Linked DNA regions of Homo sapiens. The protein of the gene in region 2 interacts with the protein of the main gene of each other region in a biochemical or structural test. Each region holds a gene or a part of one and is shown on either strand. Other genes may lie near its edges. The genes, in order: ARF3, SCYL1 and COPG1.

The links.
Region 1: the proteins of SCYL1 (region 2) and ARF3 form a complex in vitro, tested with the Homo sapiens proteins (one study listed by BioGRID).
Region 3: the proteins of SCYL1 (region 2) and COPG1 form a complex in vitro, tested with the Homo sapiens proteins (one study listed by BioGRID).

Annotation. Positions count from the first base shown.
Region 1 is NC_000012.12:48,955,424-48,959,168, reverse strand, and holds the start of ARF3 (ADP-ribosylation factor 3), read left to right. Parts: upstream 1-1,681; 5' UTR 1,682-1,859; exon of another isoform or gene 1,860-3,071; intron 3,072-3,408; exon of another isoform or gene 3,409-3,474; intron 3,475-3,745.
Region 2 is NC_000011.10:65,522,942-65,526,686, forward strand, and holds the start of SCYL1 (N-terminal kinase-like protein), read left to right. Parts: upstream 1-2,141; 5' UTR 2,142-2,212; coding exon 2,213-2,323; intron 2,324-2,612; exon of another isoform or gene 2,613-2,632; coding exon 2,633-2,773; intron 2,774-2,979; coding exon 2,980-3,102; coding exon of another isoform or gene 3,103-3,107; intron 3,108-3,182; coding exon 3,183-3,409; intron 3,410-3,745. UniProt on the Homo sapiens protein: Regulates COPI-mediated retrograde protein traffic at the interface between the Golgi apparatus and the endoplasmic reticulum. Involved in the maintenance of the Golgi apparatus morphology.
Region 3 is NC_000003.12:129,247,618-129,251,362, forward strand, and holds the start of COPG1 (coatomer subunit gamma-1), read left to right. Parts: upstream 1-1,988; 5' UTR 1,989-2,092; coding exon 2,093-2,129; intron 2,130-3,064; coding exon 3,065-3,117; intron 3,118-3,745. UniProt on the Homo sapiens protein: The coatomer is a cytosolic protein complex that binds to dilysine motifs and reversibly associates with Golgi non-clathrin-coated vesicles, which further mediate biosynthetic protein transport from the ER, via the Golgi up to the trans Golgi network.

The DNA.
Region 1 (3,745 bases), on a different chromosome or scaffold from region 2:
TAATAGCAGTGCCCAGGACAGATATAATTCCTTGTTATAAACAGGTTCCTTGTCATCCATCTCATCCCTTACCATCTTAAATTAAGGTCCCCTTAGCTTGACATTCTAGGGTCATGTTATCAGGTTAACATAAGAGAGAGAACAGACTGGGTTAAGGGACTGTAAGTGCATACACCAGGGATTGATGAGGACAAGGAGATCGACATATATGGCACCTACCAGCTTTTTTTTTTTTTTTCTTTGAGACAAAGTCTTACTCTGTCGCCCAGGCTGGAGTGCAGTGGTACGATCTTGGCTCACTGCAACTTCCGCCTCCCAGGTTCAAGCGATTCTCTGGCCTCAGTTCAAGTAGCTGGGATTACAGGTATGTGCCACCATGCCCGGCTAATTTTTGTATTTTCTGGTAGAGACAGGGTTTCACCATATTGGCCAGGATGGTCTCAAACTCCTGACCTTAAGTGATCTGCCCACTTCAGCCTGCCAAAGTGCTGGGATTACAAGTGTGAACACAGGGCCTGGCCCCAGCTTAGTTCTTCTTGGAAGCAAGGAAACAAACAAACAAAATCAACCAAGGCAATAAATTCATAAGAGCAACAATTTGGGCTCAAGCCTTAGGGAAGAGCCATGTGTTCATTCCCTTATACTGCTGTAAATGAGGAGAGAGGGCACTTAGAGAACCTTCTATTGGCCGGGCGCGGTGGCTCACGCCTGTAATCCCAGCTACTCAGGAGGCTGAGGCAGGAGAATCGCTTGAACCCGGGAGGCAGAGGTTGCAGTGAGCCAAGATGGTGCCATTGCACTCCAGCCTGGGCGACAGAGTGAGACTCTTGTCTCAAAAAAAAAAAAAAAAAAAGGAACCTTCTGTTCTTAGCATTACTAGTGCCCTTCTATCACAGCTATTTTTGTTTCAAGGCAGTTCTGCATGTCTAGACCAGGTGCAAAACGGAGTGTGAGGGAAGTAGGAGTGGGTAGGAAGCAAGAAATATGGGTGCAAAGTCCTTCACCTTTCCTTGGGATACTAAAATCCCTACTCATCTAGGCACACTTCCTCAAACCACACTTCTGAATATTAGGTTTCCACTCTCCGTCTTTCAAGTTCCAACTTAACTGGCTCAGAGTCCAGCTGTTTTCCTTTAGCCTCTTAAGTTCATCACTCTCCTTCCTCTTCCTTATGGGAAAGGATCTCTTGATTCAGACCCCACAGTAATCTAGTCTCAGGAATAGTGAGCAACAACAATGGTGCGGTGAGGGCTTTCAGGGGATGGCAGCTAGCCCAGATTAAGAAATAAAGATGAAGTCTGGCTGGGTAAGGCATGCCACAGCAACGACTGTTCACCCATATCCCGATGCTGGCTTTGCCCAAGGAGCCCCTGGGCCCCGCAGCCCAGCCCGTCTCCTACGCAGCCAACTTGCCGCCTCAGTCCTTAAATTCCAGGCACAACCCTGGAGCTTGGGATTGTCACCTCAGTCCTCACTGTCTCATCCCCATTCACGGCTCCCGCCTCCGCCGCCCACAGCCCCCACACCTGCCCCCGCCCTGACTCCAGCTCCAGCGCCCGGCCGCCGGTGCTGCAGCCGCTGCCATGGTGATGGGTCTCGCGAGAACTGCCGCTAGCTACCGCGCAGCTATCGCGCGATCGGGGAGGTGGGAAGTATCCCGGGCTGGGGGTGGGGGTACGCCGCACAGCTCCAGTCGCCGTCGCGGCTTCCGGTGCTAGGTGGAGGGAAGGAAGGAGGGAGCCGGGGAGTGGGCCAGGGCAGCAGCCGGGCTGAAGTCGGCTTGGGGAGCCAGAGGGAGCGGAGCGGAACCTGCGGGGCAGAGGCGGCGGCCGCAGCGGCGCAGCTGATAGCAGGAACAGGTGAGAGGCTGGGAAGGGAAGGCGGGTCCCGGTAGAGAAGAGGCTCGGTCAGGGTGAGGGCTGAGGAGATAGAGCGCCTCCCGGGCCCCGCCCGGCACTGCTTGGCGTGGGGCGGTGGGATTCTTCCCACCCGAGAGCTCAGAGAGGGTGCGTCGGGCCAGCTTCACGCCTGCCCCCGCATTTGAAGGACGCAGAGCTGGGGTGGGGGTGGGGGGCGCACACGGATTTGTCCTCCGCCTCGCTCAAGGGGGCGACCTGGGCTGCAGTTAGGTTGTCGCCTGCAGGAGGTGTGCTGTTGAGGGAGAGGAAAACCGTCCGAGGAGAGGTGATGAGGGGGCGGTGATGGCTGTTTGTATCTTTTCTGTTAAAGGGCTAGGGAATGCTGCTTTCTTCTACTCCCTCTCCCTCCCCCACCTTAGCAATAGGAGACGGGAGAGAAGCCTTGCTGTGGTTACACCCCCTCCCCCATCATAGGGCAGGGGTGCGTAGGGGGGTTGGGGGTTAGCCAACAGGGCAGGCTGCTGGGGCACCACATGGGCGCTATTGTGGTAGAGGTTGCGCTTTCGAGTCTAGGGAACCGCAGGTTGGGAAGAGGGCAGCAAGTGGGGAGAGGGTGGAGAGGAGGCAGGAGAAGGAGGAGGGGGATCTGATCTTCCTGGGAGAAGAGAGGTGGGGCCTTCCTCCCCAGGCGGAGCGGGGGCGGTCTCACAGGAGGAGGGAGCATCTTGTCACTGGCCCTCAGTTTGTGTCTTCCAATCCGCTTTCTTTCTTTAGGAAGTACCAGGATTCCCGGAACAGAAAATGGAGCCATTGCTTACGCGAATCGTTTGAGGGAAGGGGCGGGAGTTGGGGAGGTGGAGTTCCCTGTTAAAACGGGCCACTTGATTAGCAAAGTGGTAGCTGTTATTTTGGGGGAATTCCCGTCTTGATTGCATTAAGGCGGGTCTCCATCTTTCCAGGCCAGGAGGAATGTGGTGGTGGAGGTGGAGGATTGTGGTATGTGGTCAGGAGTGAGAAGAAATAGTAAGGCCGTCCCGGTGAGGGAGAAATGTAACCTAAAACCTGTCTCTGCTGTTGTTGGATTGGGTCACCCCTGGTCTATGGCATGAAAGTTTTATTGGGAGGAGATCTGCTGCAAGAGTCTGATTGCTTGGGTCAGTGCAACAGGACAGAATCTAGTCGCTGCATACCTCCTTCCCTGTCCTCAATCAGGTAGGTAGTAACAGTCTTTGCTGCTATTTTGTCTTGGGCTTGTTGTTGGGGTAGGTGTTTCCACTTGCCGTGACTTGGGACATGGGACAGTGTTATGGGACAGTGGATTATCATAGCCCATTGGACTTGAGTTTGAAAAACATGTCTGTAAAAGTTCATTCTAAGAAAGAAACTAATCCATTAAGGTTCAGCTTTTCACCGAATGAATGATTGACCTTGGATTCAGCCAGGAAAGGCTCCCATGTATCACATATTCACATGCGTCCTGTTTCCCAGCATAGAATTATTACCTTGCATAGTTAGAATTTTTATAGTTGTCTATCTTGCTTTTCCAAAGAGACTAGACGCTTTTCGACTGCAGGAACTGGATTTCGTCTCCTCTTCCACAATGCCCATGCAAACAGTAGGTACCCATGATGAATTTAGAATGTAAATAGATAGAACTCAACAAGCTTTCTAACTGTAGTTTAAGGAAAGGGCAAGAGATGGCTTGGCTGTCAGCAGAAGTGCCTGGAAATAGCTTAGCAAGGGTACAAAGACCCTTAGCCTTTGTAATTAAGAAGTTTTTGTGTCTCTGCCTTCCTAAGAGGCACAGAATAGGCATAGATAATGGAAACTTAAGACCCAAAAAGAAAAATATTACTAGAACACAGAGTCATTATCTGCAGTCCCAG
Region 2 (3,745 bases):
AACATGCGCTGTATTGAATCAAGGTTTAAGGGATTTAGGGCTGTGCAGGATGTGCCTTGTTAACTATATGTTTGCAAGCAGTATGCTTGGTAAAAGTCATCGCCATTCTCCATTCTCTATTAACCAGGGACATGATGCACTGTGCAAAGCCACAGGGACCTCTGCCCGAGAAAGCCTGGGTATTGTCTCCCCGACTGAGACAGCCTGATATGGCCTTGTGGGAAGGGAAAGACCTTACCATCCCCCAGCCCGACACCCGTAAAGGGTCTGTGCTGAGAATTAGTAAAAGAGGAAGATCTCTTTGCGGTTGAGATAAGAGGAAGGCCTCTGTTTCCCGTATGTCCCTGGGAATGGAATGTCTTGGTGTAAAGCCCACCAGTCATTCTATTCTGAGATAGGAGAAAACTGCCCTATGGCTGGAGGTGAGATATGCTAGCGGTGATACTGCTCTGTTACTCTTTGCTACACTGAGATGTTTGGGTAAAGAGAAACATAAATCCAGCCTACGTGCACATCCGGGCACAGTACCTTCCCTTGAACTTATTTATGATGCAGATTCCTTTACTCACATGTTTTCCTGCTGACCTTCTTCCCACCATCACCCTGTTCTGCCGCAGTCCCCTTGCAGAGATAGTGAAAATAGTAATCAGTAAATACTGAGGGAACTGAGAGACCAGCGCCGGTGCAGGTCCTCGTATACTGAGTGTGCCGGTCCCCTGGGCCCACTGTTCTTTCTCTATACTTTGTGTCTTATTTCTTTTCTCAGTCTCTTGTCTCCACCTGACGAGAAATACCCACAGGTGTGGAGGGGCAGGCCCCCTTCAAACATGTTGGTCAGGCTGACCTGGAACTCCTGACCTCAGGTGATCCTCCAGCCTCGGCCTCCCAAAGTGCTGAGATTACAAGCGTGAACCACTGTGCCTGGCCCTCACCCCAGTTTATAGATGGGGGACCTAACGCACCCAAAGGGAACTGTGTGAGTTCTCACATCCAATGAGGGGCTGAACCGTGATTGAAACCCAGCACCGTCTCACTGTGGCATCTCTGCCCTTGAGTTATCTCCCAAAGGCATCCCAACCAGACTTTTCATAACCAGTCCCAGAATCTCACCAGTGCTCCATAGCTGTGGTTGAGGCACTGTCCCCAAGCCTGGGTCCTGAGACCCTACCAGCAGAAGAACCACTGCCTGTCCAGCCCCTCCTACACAGCTCAGGGGCTGGATCCCCACCAGTGTGATGTGCTGATTGAGCTAACACCACTCCATGGCTGTCTACACAGGCACTGAGAGATGCAATCCGTTGGCTTGAGAGCCGGGCAGCTGAGCCCAGGAGAGCAGGGTCCCCTCCCAGCCCTTTGGCCTCTTCCAGACCTGCCCAGTTGCTCCTTCTCCCTCCCTCCTTTCCTGGGGTCACTTCTTCTTCCCTCCTCAGTCTCTCCTTCCTCCATTCCCTGGGTGCCCGCCCCTGCCCCGGGGTTCTGGACCTCCTTGGAACCTTGGATTCACTCTCTGCCTCTCACCCACGCTCTTTCTCTGGGGCGTCTCCTCGTGCTTCTCTCATGGTCACTTCACCAGGACCGACTCCTCCCCGGAGCCTGGAGGCACCCACTTGCTGGTGGGAGAGAGTGTCTGGCGTGGGGCCAGTCTCCCTCTCTGGGTCTCTGCCTCACTCCTCACTGCACCCTCTCATGCCTGTCAGTCTTTCTACCTCTCCCCCTTTTTGCCTCGGTTTCCCCATCCCTCTGTCCCTTCTTAAGCTCTCATCCTTACAGTACGCTAGAAGGCAGGCTCTATTATCCTTTAGGATTTAGGCCTCTTTAGATAAAAGGGCTCACAGGCTTGGAGGGTTTTAAGTGACTTACCCGGCGGCGGAGTACTGATCTTAGTACCGCCCGCCGCCCCGGACTGCCCCGCCCCTCCCTAGCCCCCCCATCCCCGCCCCTCCCTAGCCCCCCCATCCCCGCCCCTCCCTAGCCCCCCCATCCCCGCCCCTCTCCCGCCCCTCCCTTGTCCCCGCCCCTTCCCGCCCCAACTCAGGTTCTGCCCCACCCCGCCCCAATTCACGTCCTGCTCCGCCCCGACGTAGGCCCCGCCCTGGCCCCCGGGCCCCGCCCCCGTCTGACGCAGGCCCCGCCCCCTCTCCGCCCCGCCCCGGCTCGGGCGGCCGGAGGACCCGGAGCTAAGGCGCCCGAACCCGCGGCGGCGGTGGGGACGATGTGGTTCTTTGCCCGGGACCCGGTCCGGGACTTTCCGTTCGAGCTCATCCCGGAGCCCCCAGAGGGCGGCCTGCCCGGGCCCTGGGCCCTGCACCGCGGCCGCAAGAAGGTGAGTGCGGCCGAGCTCCGTAGGCCGCGGTCGACCTGGGCCTTGCCTATTCCGCGCCGCCGACCCCGTCGCGTTGCGCCCGGCCTGACGTGGCGGCGGAACCAAGGGGTAGCAGGCCGGGGAGGGGGCGGGCAGTGCCTACGTGGCGGGCGGAGGGACCGAGGGACCGACAGGCGGACAGGGCCGGGGTCACGTGGGCCCGGCGAAGTGTCCCTAAGGCTGACCTGGGGAGAGACCTGGCTGCGGGCCCTTGTCTTCCGGCCACACAACAGCTCTGGGACCATCTCAGGCCCCGCTGCCCTCCCCTAGGCCACAGGCAGCCCCGTGTCCATCTTCGTCTATGATGTGAAGCCTGGCGCGGAAGAGCAGACCCAGGTGGCCAAAGCTGCCTTCAAGCGCTTCAAAACTCTACGGCACCCCAACATCCTGGCTTACATCGATGGACTGGAGGTACCTGCTGCCTTGCCTGCCCGTCTCTGCCCCTCACGATGTCCTGGTTACCCACTCCTGTCTCCCCTCCTGCCCTGTTTCCACCCTATGTGCCCCAGCACCCCCAGATTTGGTTTCCTCTTCCCCATCTCTCCCAACTTCAAGTCGCTTATCTCTCCTTCCTCTCTGCCCCTCCGCCCTTGATAACCCTGTGTCCCCTTCCCCAGACAGAAAAATGCCTCCACGTCGTGACAGAGGCTGTGACCCCGTTGGGAATATACCTCAAGGCGAGAGTGGAGGCTGGTGGCCTGAAGGAGCTGGAGATCTCCTGGGGGCTACACCAGATCGTGGTGAGGTGGGGGGCAGTGGTGATGAGAGCAGGGATGGGGGGTTGCAGGTGCTGGGGCGTGATGGCTCCTTTTGCCCCCAGAAAGCCCTCAGCTTCCTGGTCAACGACTGCAGCCTCATCCACAACAATGTCTGCATGGCCGCCGTGTTCGTGGACCGAGCTGGCGAGTGGAAGCTTGGGGGCCTGGACTACATGTATTCGGCCCAGGGCAACGGTGGGGGACCTCCCCGCAAGGGGATCCCCGAGCTTGAGCAGTATGACCCCCCGGAGTTGGCTGACAGCAGTGGCAGAGTGGTCAGAGAGAAGTGGTGGGTGACTGGGGGCAGCGCGCCCCAACCTGCCCTGTCCTGGAGGCCCCTGCAGCCTCAGGACTCCTAGACTAGTTGGCACTCCCCTGTTCCCTGCTGCCTGGCTGGGGAGGGAATCAGTGTCCCAGGAGTGAGGGACACTCCTCTGCCCCCAGGGTCCTCAGGGCGGTAGGGCGGGATGGACACAGCATTCGGGGTTGGGTGATTCTGAACTTGAAAGCTCTGTGACCTGGACAGATGTGCCTAGTTCTCTGAGGCTTGGTTTTTTTAATCTGTTAAGTGAGGCTAATGAAACCTGCCTCTTGGGACTGATGGCTCAGCTGAGGGACATAGCCA
Region 3 (3,745 bases), on a different chromosome or scaffold from region 2:
GACCTCCCAGGCTTAAGCAATCCTCCCATCTCAGACTCCTGGAGTAGCTGAGACAAGATAAAAATCAGTTTAGTCCTCAGATGTACCATAACTTCCTTAATCATCCCTTTATTGATAGACATTTAGGGTGTTTACAATTATTTTGCTGCAAACTGCTGCAGCAGGCAACTTCATTTTCTTTTTTCTTTTTTTTGAGACAGTTTCGCTTTTGTTGCCCAGACTCCAGGCTGGAGTGCAACGGCGTGATCTCAGCTCACTGCAGCCTCCGCCTCCCAGGTTCAAACGATTCTCCTGCCTCAGCCTCCCGAGTAGCTGGGATTACAGGTATGCACCACCACGCCAGGCTAATTTTTTTTTTTTTTGTATTTAGTAGAGATGGGGTTTCACCATGTTGGTCAGGCTGCTCTCAAACTCCTGACCTCAGGTGATCCACCTGCCTCAGCCTTCCAAAGTGCTGGGATTACAGGCTTGAGACACTGCGCCCGGCCTCATTTTCTTCTTTTGAACAATTTCCTCCTGATTAGGGGTGGGGTTACCGATCAGACATTTTGAACATCTTTCTGACTCTTGACAATTTTGCATGTCACAAGATCTGTTGTCCTTGGCCCTAGCCTCTGCAAAGCCAGACCCTAAGGGCTGGCCCCTCTGACATCTCCCTTCCTCCAGCTTTGCGGTCACCCTTTTCACCTGGGGCCTCTGCCTCAGCCTCCTGCCTCTCCTCTCCACAGCCCACTCCTTCTCCTGCCCACAGGCCTGCGGGCTTCCCCTCCCCAGGCAAGCTGGGGCCGTGTCGCAGCGCTTGGCCATCACGACTTTGCCATTGCCAATGCAATCTGGCTCACTGGCATGCACTGTGCTTACCTTAGCCTCAGGGTGTCCTGCATAGGTCCCCAGGAAGATAAACCCTGGGTGATGTGTCATTTTCCCCTTTCCGTTCCTTCCCACGCCCTTCCCCCCACCTCCCCGCGTAGGCAGCGCATCTAGTTGGCACTCCATAAATATCCAAAGTATTTACAAAATAACGTAGAAGTTCTATGCTGTTTAGTTAGATCTCTTAAGGTTGATAATGTACAAGGCAATTTGCATCAGGAGCAGACGAGATAGGGCCCGGCAGATATAAATTAAAAATGCAATTGCACGCATTCATTCAACGAGAACTCACTGAGCAACTACTATGTGCCAACATTATCCACTGCAGTGAATAAAAGACAAACAAACAAGCAAATAACAAAAAAAAAAACAAAAGAGCAAGAAAGTGGCCGGGTGCAGTGGCTCACCGCTGTAATCCCAGCACTTTGGAAGGTCGAGAAAGGAGGATCGCTTGAGGCCACGAGTTCAAGACCAGACTGGGCAACATCATAGTGAGACCTCGTCTCTACAAAAATTAAAAAATTAGTCGGGGGTGGTGCGCCCAGCTCTACTCGGGAGGCTGAGGTGGGAGGATCGCTTGAGCCCAGGAACTGTAGGCTGCAGTGAGCCAGGATCGCACAACTGCACCACAGCCTGGGCAGCAGAACGAGAAATAAATAAACAAATAAAAGCCAGAAAGTAAAAATAAAGTGTTAGATGGCGATTCGAGCTGAGGAGGAAATCAGGCAGGGGAAAGAATCTGAAAGCGAGGAGTGAGTGGCTGGCAAGGCTCCTTCGGAAGGTGGCAATAACAGTCATAGACCGGTCACATCAATTGGGTGTTTACTGCGGGCCAGTGTGTGCCACCAACCTCACACCCGAAAGCCACAAAGACTCACGCCACAACGCAACGAGGCAGGGGCTCCTCCTCCTCCCTTGGTATACGGAAAGAAGCGTAGGGAGCAGAGTTGGGATGCTAGTCAGTACCCCCCTGCACCTAGCCCTTGCCCCTCCGTCTGGCTTTCCCCACTCCCGCTCCGGCGGAGCTAAGGTTAACATTAGACGAGGCTGTGGCTACCGGAAAGAGCGCAGGCGCAGAGCGCGGAATGCGCCTGCGCAGAGCGCTGGGCGACGTGGCCAGTCGGGGCCCGGAAGTGGTCCCTGTAGAACCACTGTGGCACCGCTACTCCGTGCCGCGCCCGTCGAGCATTGCGTTGCTGCATTGCGCCCCACCGACTCCACTATGTTGAAGAAATTCGACAAGAAGGATGAGGAGTCAGGTGAGGGGGCCAGGCCTGGGTCTGAGGGAGGCCGGACCCCCACCCGCCGAGCTTTCCTTCTGGTTCTCTGTCCTGACCCGGAGGCTGAGGCCCAGTGAGGGGCAGGGGCTTGTGCCAGGGTCCACAGCTAGTCAGTGGCAGGCCTCGGAGAGCCCGAGCATGCGCGGCTGTCTCACTCTTGTAAGCTCGGACTGCAATTTTCTGGGTGACCTTGGGCGCGACAAACACCCCCCCCCCCAGGCCTCAATTTACCCATCTGTCAAAGGAGGGGACCATGCCGAATGTTCTCTTGTTACTTTCTTCGTCCAACCTCTTGGGATTCGCTGGGGCTACGTTGGTGCTGGCCAAACTGGGGTGTAACCTGCGGAGCCAGCGTCCTGTGACTGGGAACTCTGACCCCATCATTCATTTATTCAGCAAAGTATATTGAGCAGTTACTGTATGCCAGGTACTGTACGGTGTCCTGGATACTGCAACAGAGCAAGTGGGACACTCAGTGCCTGAGCTAGGAATATTAGAATGGTTGCACCCACGATGGAGGAGGCAGACATCAACCAGATAATCACACGTGTAATTATTTGCAAATGTGTCATCTGCTATGAAGGAACTAGTTACAACGAGATGGTGGTCCCTGGCACATAGGGACTTAGTTAATTACAAGTTATATAAATGAACACAAGACATGGCACCATGAGAAGCACAGGACTGTACCAGGGCTGCTGGGAGATTGTGAGTGGTTTGGGGTAGAGTGGAGCCCACCTGCTTGCAGGAGACTAGTAGGATCCCTAGACAGATTGTAGAGGCTTGATTGCCATTCCTGAGGAGTTTGAACTTTACTAGATTTCCTAGGAAGGGACATCTTCCCTTTACCTATGTCTGGGAGAGTTTTGAAGTTCAGAGTCACAACCTACCTTCTCCATTGTCCTTGACCGTAGGTGGAGGCTCCAACCCATTCCAGCACCTTGAGAAGAGTGCGGTACTCCAGGAGGCAAGTGACATTTGCTCCCCTCTAGCTTCCATCATAAATATTCACCACCAATGCAACTGAAATACCAACACATTCAAAGTGTTGTTTTAAAGAGCAACACGGGAGAAAACTTGTGCCTGGAAGTTTTCTGGAAGACAGGAAAACTTTGTTTCTGGAGAGAGTTAGTTATGCTTACTTCTTTTTTTTTTTTTTTTTTTTTTTTTTTCTGAGACAGAGTCTTGCTCTGTCGCTCAGGCTGGAGTGCAGTGGCGTGATCTCGGCTCACTGCAAGCTCCGCCTTCCAGGTTCACGCCATTCTCCTGCCTCAGCCTCCCAAGTAGCTGGGACTACAGACGCCCGCCACCACACCCGGCTAATTTTTTGTATTTTTAGTAGAGACGGGGTTTCACCGCGTTAGCCAGGACGGTCTTGATCTCCTGACCTCGTGATCCACCCGCCTCGGCCTCCCAAAGTGCTGGGATTACAGGCTTGAGCCACCGCGCCTGGCCTCTCTATTTAAACATTTAAAAAATTTCTCTATTTAAAGTTAATTCCAAAGCTAAGGAAACTGGTTTAAAACTATCACCTAAGCTAGACTGTGGCCATTATGCAGGTAGAGATTTTGCATGACTTGTTTATTTTTATTATA